Linked DNA regions of Homo sapiens: region 1 is reported to be linked to region 2. Evidence: microRNA targets listed by miRTarBase, many of them from high-throughput screens and not tested one by one. Region 2 holds a microRNA gene; the other region holds the end of a gene's coding sequence.
What was found. Region 2 holds the annotated microRNA hsa-miR-1229-5p (GUGGGUAGGGUUUGGGGGAGAGCG, at 2,897-2,920, shown strand). A microRNA usually pairs through its seed, bases 2 to 8, with sites in the 3' UTR of a target mRNA and lowers its output. Matches are read on the target gene's strand: a 7mer-m8 pairs with bases 2 to 8, a 7mer-A1 pairs with bases 2 to 7 and ends in A, and an 8mer does both.

Region 1 (4,000 bases), not on the chromosome of region 2:
CTCTGCACCGAAACTTCCCACCAAGTAACACCCAATTAATCCCATCCTCTCCTCCAACACAGAATTCCACCCACGCACCTATTCCCCCTCCCAGCGCTTCAGACACCTCTCTCATCGAAAAACCGGGCGAAGGGAAGCCGGCAACGAGCGGAGAACTCTGGCTGAATTAGTAAGTTTTTCTGTTTCCCCCTTCTACCTTTCTCTCTGAAACCAATTCCCACGGAGTAGAAAGTGCTGTGCTGATGCTAATAAAATGCCTGTGGATTAATGCACTTTGCCCTCACCTCTTCCCACCTTCCCAGGTCAAGGATGGTCTCCTCTTGTTGGGGAATCCAACAAAACCAAATAGGGCCATGAATGAAAACACAAAAATCCAAACCCAAAGGGCTGGCGGGGAACACAGTGTGCCGGGCCACTTCCTTTTGGGCTTCACGGGGTCGCTAGGGAAGGGGAGAGAGACGACCCAAGGGATGCTGCCCTGTGCCTTGGCGCTGTGCCACGGAGGGCCGAAGGAAGGCGGGCACTTACTGCCAAGGCGAGCCAGGGAGGGGAGAGAAAGGGAGTGGTGTGTGTGTGTGTGTGCGTGCGCGCGTGTGTGCCTGTGTGTGTGACGTGTGTGGGCTGTAGTGTGTGATGGGGGCAAGTGTGAATGGGTGAGTATGGGTAAGGGGGAGTATGCCCCTCTTAAAGCCTCCCTGGGTGCCCTCTCCCACCGCTACCGCCGCCGGCTGTCGCCTCACCACCTTTGCTCCTATCTCCTCCCCACATGTCTCACCTTCAGACGGTGGCTCCCAGAAGCTCCTGCCCCTCTGACAGCTGTCGCTTGGGCAGCCCGAGAGAAGAATTGTCCTCTTTCCTGGTGCCAGAGGACGCAGGAAATTAGCCAGGTTGCGAGTTGCAAAGCTGCTGCCGCGGCGCCGGGAACGGAGCGCGCCCAATCTCCAGCGGGAGCCGCCAGGCCTGGCCTGGCCGGGGCTTCCCTTCGCTCGCCATCTCCGGACAAAGCACAGCCGAGCCCGGCTGGAAGGCAGAGCTCCGAAGCAGGCAGGACGGAGCGGAGCAAAAGAATGCGGCTCTATTCTCGCAAGGGAAATTATAAAAAAGTTCATGTTCACGGTTCTCATCCACATGACCGACAGCGGCCAATGGAAGGGCCGAACAACTCATAAAGTTGTATTGCAAAGTTGTAAATTTTCATAAACAACAACGGATTTATGACCCTTTCCCCATCACTGAGAGGAGGCAGCTCTTACACCGGCGCCATCTTACCACCGAGGCCGCCCCGACTTGGGGCCTCAGGTTTTACAGACCCTTTTGGGCCAGGTTTTACTAAAAGAGCCATAAGAAGCGGGCCCAGCCCAGGCAGGAGACTGGAGACGAGGTCTTGCAGGCGGAACTCAGGATGCTCTGAGCTGCCCGCACAACCCCTGGACCTTCACCCCTCGCCCCTTCCCCGCATCCAGCTGCCCCAGCCCCTGCCCAGGCTGCGTAGCCTAGCGGGGGTCTGCGGTCCTAGCCCCTCCCCGCGCCACCTACTGCAGTGCCGGACCCTGGGGCCCCCTCGCCTGGTCTGCAGGCGGGGTGGGGACCTTAAATCCCATTTCCTAGCCTGGGGCTGGGTTCAGGGCGCATGCGAATCCGGAATCAGCTCTGGGTAATGCCCCTTTCCAAGCCCACTGCTCAGCCTTAGAGGAAAGTGTGGATTTGAAATTTCCTCATGGAATTGATGGAGGTTTTTAGGTAGATTCATAGAATATAACGTATCTACCAAAGATTCCGTTTTCAAGGGATCTAGAAGATGTTAGTGCACACGCAAAAACCAGACAAACGTCTCTACACGGATAAAGGCACATATACAATTATGCACACAGGGAAGGGCATACACTCTATTGTGGGCACAGAATGACATGCAATTATGGACACACAAAAACACATGCACCCAATTATGGACACCAAAATATATACAATTGTGGAATTAGGTAAAAACACACACACAGAAATACATACACAGAAAAATAAGCACATACTCATACAAATACACACATAAAAATACATTAAAAAGATACATGACACCAATACATGGGTACCCAACACTTGGACCATCACAAGGACAGCCACCCCACTTTTGCTTCCCCACTGCCCCCTGCCCTCCAGCCATACTCACCTCCCCTTTCCCAGTCCCCTCTGGATAAGGCAGTCCACATTTTTCTTTGTCACCACGCATCTTTATTTTCGGTTACATAAAACACAGCTGGGCTGGGAAGTGTGCCTTCCCTGAACCCCAGGATGGAGCTGAGCAGGGTACAGGACAACACAGGAGATGAAGGGCATTGCGGAGGGCATTGGACCTCCCCACCCACTACAGTTAACTCAAGACAACATACCATGCTACAAAGTCACCCCATTAACACATCCTTTCCAAGTCAAGACACTGCCTTACAAATGAACTCCAAGACTATAGAAATGATAAAAAAAAATCTTGTTCAAATATACAGTATCTGCTATTATAGGAAACATCAGGGCGTACATATTTAACACAGCTGAACAGTAAGATACAGGAGCCAGAGGAAAGGACAGCGAAGCTGGAAGCATCTCCACAGTCCTGCTAAGCAGAAGCTAACCCACAGATCTGCAGCCAGCTCAGGAACATTCCCCTCCAGAAGTGGGGGTTGATGGGCCTGAGCTGTGGGTGCCAAGCCAGAGAAGGAGGGATTGATTCTAGGGTGCAAGCACTTAGGATGCTTTTTGGAATAAATATATTATTTTTCGATTTAAATAGATGCCAATACCCTGATCCTGGACCTCAGCACATTCTCAGGGCAGCCTCAGGGACCCCAAAAGCTGCGGGCTGTAAGCAGCAGGGGACTTGCCTGGGAGCAGTCGGCACTAGGTAGCAGGCAAGCCAGCCAGCACAAAATAGGTAGTTTTAGGGGAGTAGGTAGTAGTGAGATTCACTTTCTTGCGGGTCTGGGAGGGTGGTGCTGGGTGTCTGCCAGTGTTGGGATACATAGGGACTTCCTGGGAATGGAGGCCCTCTGGGGCTGGATACATAGGTAGTTTGGGGGTGCCTCGAGCAGAGGCCTGTGCTAGGTAGTATTTTGGACGCGCCAGAGCAGGGCCGGCTGGCCTGGGGTTGGGGGTGTCTTTTGGGGTCCTCGGAGGCAGAGGGAATCCAAGGCGACCCAGTCTCTGCGGCCGCTCAGTCCACAAAAGTTGGGAGCTGGAGTAGGTGATGGGGGTGGGTAGAGTGCAGGTTGGGGACTGGGTTGCTTTTTTGTTTTTGTTTTTGTTTTTTACATTTTCTTTTATTTTTCCCATTTTTGTAAGTAAAACCAGTGAGTCTCTTAAAGACGCTTTTCCGACTGTCCGGTGCAGAGAGGGCCCCGGATCGGCCCCTCATTCCTCCTCGTCTTCCTCTTCTTCATCATCGTCCTCCTCGTCGGCCTTGTCCGCGGCAGCAGTGGCGGCGGCAGAGGGCACGGCGCCCTCGGGAGCTGCGGCGGCAGTCGGACCTTCGTCCTTATGCTCTTTCTTCCACTTCATGCGGCGGTTCTGGAACCAGATCTTAATCTGGCGCTCGGTGAGGCAGAGCGCGTGGGCGATTTCAATGCGGCGGCGCCGCGTCAGGTAGCGGTTGAAGTGGAACTCCTTCTCCAGCTCCAGCGTCTGGTAGCGCGTGTAGGTCTGGCGGCCCCGCTTCCTGTCAGGTCCTGAGAACAGACATGCAGACACATGAACACAAGGACAGACAAGTAGACAGGGCACTCGTTAGGCTGCTGTCCCAGAGCCCGCACCTTCCTCCTGGCCTAGTCCCCAGCGAGCATCCCCCTCTGCCCCAGGCCCCGAACTGAGCTAGGGGAGGAGGGGGAGTGTTAGGGAAAGACCCCAACTGCAGTGCCAGACGCGCAGGCAGCTCTGTAATGAGCAAAGGCACAGAATCTCAACTTTACAACCGACCTTTCCAGCCGGCTAAGCTTCCACAATGTCCTGCTTCCTCTGA
Region 2 (4,148 bases):
TCGGAAGTTCAGTTGCTAGTTTCATTCGCAAATGCTCCGAGATAGAAAGTTGAAAGGGCTTTCTGGCACCCTCTACCCCTACCCATCGCCCCCGCCACCCCCTAGTCCTTGGCCATGCGAGTCCCAAAGGGAAAGGGCCGTCTCTGGGGGCCCCCTTACTCCGCCCTCAGCACAGCAGGCTCACTCCCTCCACGTGGGGGGCATCTGAAGCCTGTGCCCCTTCTCCAAGCCCTTCCAGGCCTTTTGGGGCAGCAGCAGGGCTAAGGGAGGGTGCTTGGTCTCCCCACAGACTGACTCACAGTACACTTCGGCAGTGACAGAGAACATCAAGGCCTTGTGAGTACTGGCGACCCCAGAGAGCTGGTGGCGGGAGAGCTCGGTGCGGGGTGTTGTGCTGGCAGGTTCCTGCCTCCCCATGAGATAGTGCCTTTCCTATCTCGTGGGGAGGCAGGGACCTGGTGGGGGAGGGGTGGGTGTGCAGAAGTGGCCCAGCCCCTCTGGAGCTCTGCTACCTCAGTTGGCTGGGTGTAGGGGGTGGTGGGGGGCTGGCACTGGGTGAGCCTCAAGAAAGGGCCACAGTCTGGTGGGCTCGGCCCCTCTCAGCCCCTGGAGGCTGCATACGGACTAGGCCTTCCCGTCCCCCAGGTTCCCCACGGAGATCCATTCTGGGCTCCTGGAGGTCATCTCACCCTCCCCCCACTTCTACCCTGACTTCTCCCGCCTCCGAGAGTCCTTTGGGGACCCCAAGGAGAGAGTCAGGTACTAGTTACTCCCCCATACCCTCAGCAACCCGCCTGCCTGTGCTGAGAACCCATCTACTGGTGTTTGAGTCCAGGGTGTTTCCCTGCAGTGCCCTGAATTCTCCATGGGAGGACCCGTGCATGGGGGTGGGGGGACAGAAGCTGCCCACCCAGCGGCTTCTCTGCGGAGCCACAATGGAGGTGGAGGGGTCTGAACTTCTGAGGCCCCGCCCCGGCCCACAGGTGGAGGACCAAACAGAACCTCGATTACTGCTTCCTCATGATGTACGCGCAGTCCAAAGGCATCTACTACGTGCAGGTCAGCCCCAAGCCCTGCGTTGCCCTGCCCTGCCCTGCGCCGCCCTGCCCTGCGATGGGTCTGGTCCATCTGGGTGCCCTTCCTCAGCCCCAGCCCCTCTCTGCTCACCTCGCAGCTGGAGGATGACATCGTGGCCAAGCCCAACTACCTGAGCACCATGAAGAACTTTGCACTGCAGCAGCCTTCAGAGGACTGGATGATCCTGGAGTTCTCCCAGCTGGGCTTCATTGGTGTGCCCCTCCCCTTACCTGACGGTGCCTTTCAGTCCCACCTGCCTCTGCCATCCTCTCTCCCAGTCCCACTGTGTCCACTGTGAGCCTTTGCCCAGGTGGGCCCTGCCTGGTGTGCGTGCTACAGCCCCACCTGGCCTGTTCTCATTGCCTGTGCATCAGACATGTCTGCCCTCATCACCTGTCTGCCTCCCTGCCCCGTTATGCCCACACCTGCCTGAAGCCTGCCCCTGGGTTTGCTGTGGGACTCGGGGGCCGCTGCAGGGAGAAAGGAAGTAGGCAGAGCAGCACTGCCCACTCAGGCCCCTCCCCACCAGGTAAGATGTTCAAGTCGCTGGACCTGAGCCTGATTGTAGAGTTCATTCTCATGTTCTACCGGGACAAGCCCATCGACTGGCTCCTGGACCATATTCTGTGGGTGAAAGTCTGCAACCCCGAGAAGGATGCGGTGAGCAAGAGCTGGCGGGACTGGCAGGGGCAGGGCCAAGGGGCAGGCAGCCTCCACCCCAAACTGTGTCCCTGTCCTTGCATCTGCTCACATAGAGCACTGTCAGCTGTGGGAGGGCCCTGGTAGTCCCCAGGAGAGGCCGTGTTGAGGAAGGAGGGCTAAGCCGAGCCCTGGGGTGTTGCCCACCCTCCACAGAAGCACTGTGACCGGCAGAAAGCCAACCTGCGGATCCGCTTCAAACCGTCCCTCTTCCAGCACGTGGGCACTCACTCCTCGCTGGCTGGCAAGATCCAGAAACTGAAGGTGGGCTGCACTGCACGCTCTCCCTAGGCCGGGATCAAGGTCGGGGCCCACGCCATCACTGCTGTCCCTCCTCCGCTGCAGGACAAAGACTTTGGAAAGCAGGCGCTGCGGAAGGAGCATGTGAACCCGCCAGCAGAGGTGAGCACGAGCCTGAAGACATACCAGCACTTCACCCTGGAGAAAGCCTACCTGCGCGAGGACTTCTTCTGGGCCTTCACCCCTGCCGCGGGGGACTTCATCCGCTTCCGCTTCTTCCAACCTCTAAGACTGGAGCGGTCAGTGCCAGCACCATGGGTCTGCGATGGGGGCGGGGCTGGGTGGCCCCCAGGGTGTAGGCTTCACCGGCAAGTTATCCTCACGTTCTTCAGTTTCCGCATCTGAAGTGGGCCTCGTAATGGTAGCTACCTTGTGAGGACTAAGTCAGGCAGCCCCTAGGAGCTCAGGGATGTTTCCTGTCACCATCCTCCCAGAGGAAGGCCCTGGTCTCTTTGCACAGCCTGACAGCTGCCTGGGGGGCCCTCCTGGCGCAGGCCTGGCCTTTCTCTGCTGGGCCCTGGGTGCTGTGCTGGAACGCTGCCCCTGCAGCAGCTCACAGGCCTGCCTGGCTGCAGGTTCTTCTTCCGCAGTGGGAACATCGAGCACCCGGAGGACAAGCTCTTCAACACGTCTGTGGAGGTGCTGCCCTTCGACGTAAGTTCGGTGGGTGTGGTGTGCACTGAAGCCGGGCCTCCTGTGACCACCTGCCTCAGCCCTTGATTCTGCCCCCAGAACCCTCAGTCAGACAAGGAGGCCCTGCAGGAGGGCCGCACCGCCACCCTCCGGTACCCTCGGAGCCCCGACGGCTACCTCCAGATCGGTGGGTAGGGTTTGGGGGAGAGCGTGGGCTGGGGTTCAGGGACACCCTCTCACCACTGCCCTCCCACAGGCTCCTTCTACAAGGGAGTGGCAGAGGGAGAGGTGGACCCAGCCTTCGGCCCTCTGGAAGCACTGCGCCTCTCGATCCAGACGGACTCCCCTGTGTGGGTGATTCTGAGCGAGGTGAGGCTGGGCAGGGCCAGGCCAGGCACGGGGAGCAGCCAGGGAGACCCTGGCGGAGCTCAGAGGCCCTGCTGACCCTGGGTCCGGCTCTTCCAGATCTTCCTGAAAAAGGCCGACTAAGCTGCGGGCTTCTGAGGGTACCCTGTGGCCAGCCCTGAAGCCCACATTTCTGGGGGTGTCGTCACTGCCGTCCCCGGAGGGCCAGATACGGCCCCGCCCAAAGGGTTCTGCCTGGCGTCGGGCTTGGGCCGGCCTGGGGTCCGCCGCTGGCCCGGAGGCCCTAGGAGCTGGTGCTGCCCCCGCCCGCCGGGCCGCGGAGGAGGCAGGCGGCCCCCACACTGTGCCTGAGGCCCGGAACCGTTCGCACCCGGCCTGCCCCAGTCAGGCCGTTTTAGAAGAGCTTTTACTTGGGCGCCCGCCGTCTCTGGCGCGAACACTGGAATGCATATACTACTTTATGTGCTGTGTTTTTTATTCTTGGATACATTTGATTTTTTCACGTAAGTCCACATATACTTCTATAAGAGCGTGACTTGTAATAAAGGGTTAATGAAGTGTGTGCCTCAAATGTGAGCGCCCTGGGCATCTCCCTCTGCCCCTGCGGTTGGCTTCATTTGGTCTGTGCCCCAACATGCCAACTAAGCCTGGCACTGGGCCTCCCCAGCCAGCATCAGCAGCGACCTTTCCCTGCTAAGTCAAGGAGCCAGCCTGGCCTGCAGGCGCGGGGTCCAGCCCCTGGCTGTGCAGCTGCAGTGCCACCTCGGCGCCAGCGTACCCCCCTTCCTAGGATCAGGCCGCAAAGTCTGTCACTGGTGAAACCAGCTCAGAATCTGGGACCACAATGCCTATAGCAGGTCCCCCGAATGTCTCCCCCATGTCCAAGGCCTGCGATGAGGCCTTCCCTTAGCTCCTCAAGCTGAAGGCATTTCCCAGCCTCCTTGTTCCCCTCCGTGTGTCTCAGCTTGGTCCTCATCCTGGGTCCCCGACACTCCTCTGGCACATTAGGGTCTCCCGCTCACCTCAGGGCCTTTGCACACACTGTTGCCCCTCCTTGGAAAGCTCTCCTTTCT

Region 1: miRTarBase lists HOXA7 as a target of hsa-miR-1229-5p. Seed matches in the 3' UTR shown: 7mer-m8 at 3,240-3,246.

What each region holds. Positions count from the first base shown.
Region 1 is chr7:27,151,513-27,155,512 of GRCh38, forward strand. It overlaps HOXA7 (homeobox A7), which reads right to left. Exons shown (of 2, transcript NM_006896.4): 2 at 2,204-3,710. The coding sequence ends at 3,397. It overlaps HOXA3 (homeobox A3), which reads right to left and starts at 1,071. Exons shown (of 6, transcript NM_153631.3): 1 at 776-1,071. HOXA-AS3 (HOXA cluster antisense RNA 3) reads left to right here. Exons shown (of 3, transcript NR_038832.1): 2 at 63-169; 3 at 782-4,000. RefSeq lists an enhancer at 3,007-3,591.
Region 2 is chr5:179,797,095-179,801,242 of GRCh38, reverse strand. It overlaps MIR1229 (microRNA 1229), which reads left to right and starts at 2,897; the gene lies at 2,897-2,965. MGAT4B (alpha-1,3-mannosyl-glycoprotein 4-beta-N-acetylglucosaminyltransferase B) reads left to right here. Exons shown (of 15, transcript NM_014275.5): 5 at 290-336; 6 at 646-759; 7 at 984-1,059; 8 at 1,175-1,289; 9 at 1,607-1,737; 10 at 1,933-2,040; 11 at 2,122-2,315; 12 at 2,652-2,730; 13 at 2,809-2,896; 14 at 2,966-3,078; 15 at 3,175-3,633. The coding sequence ends at 3,198.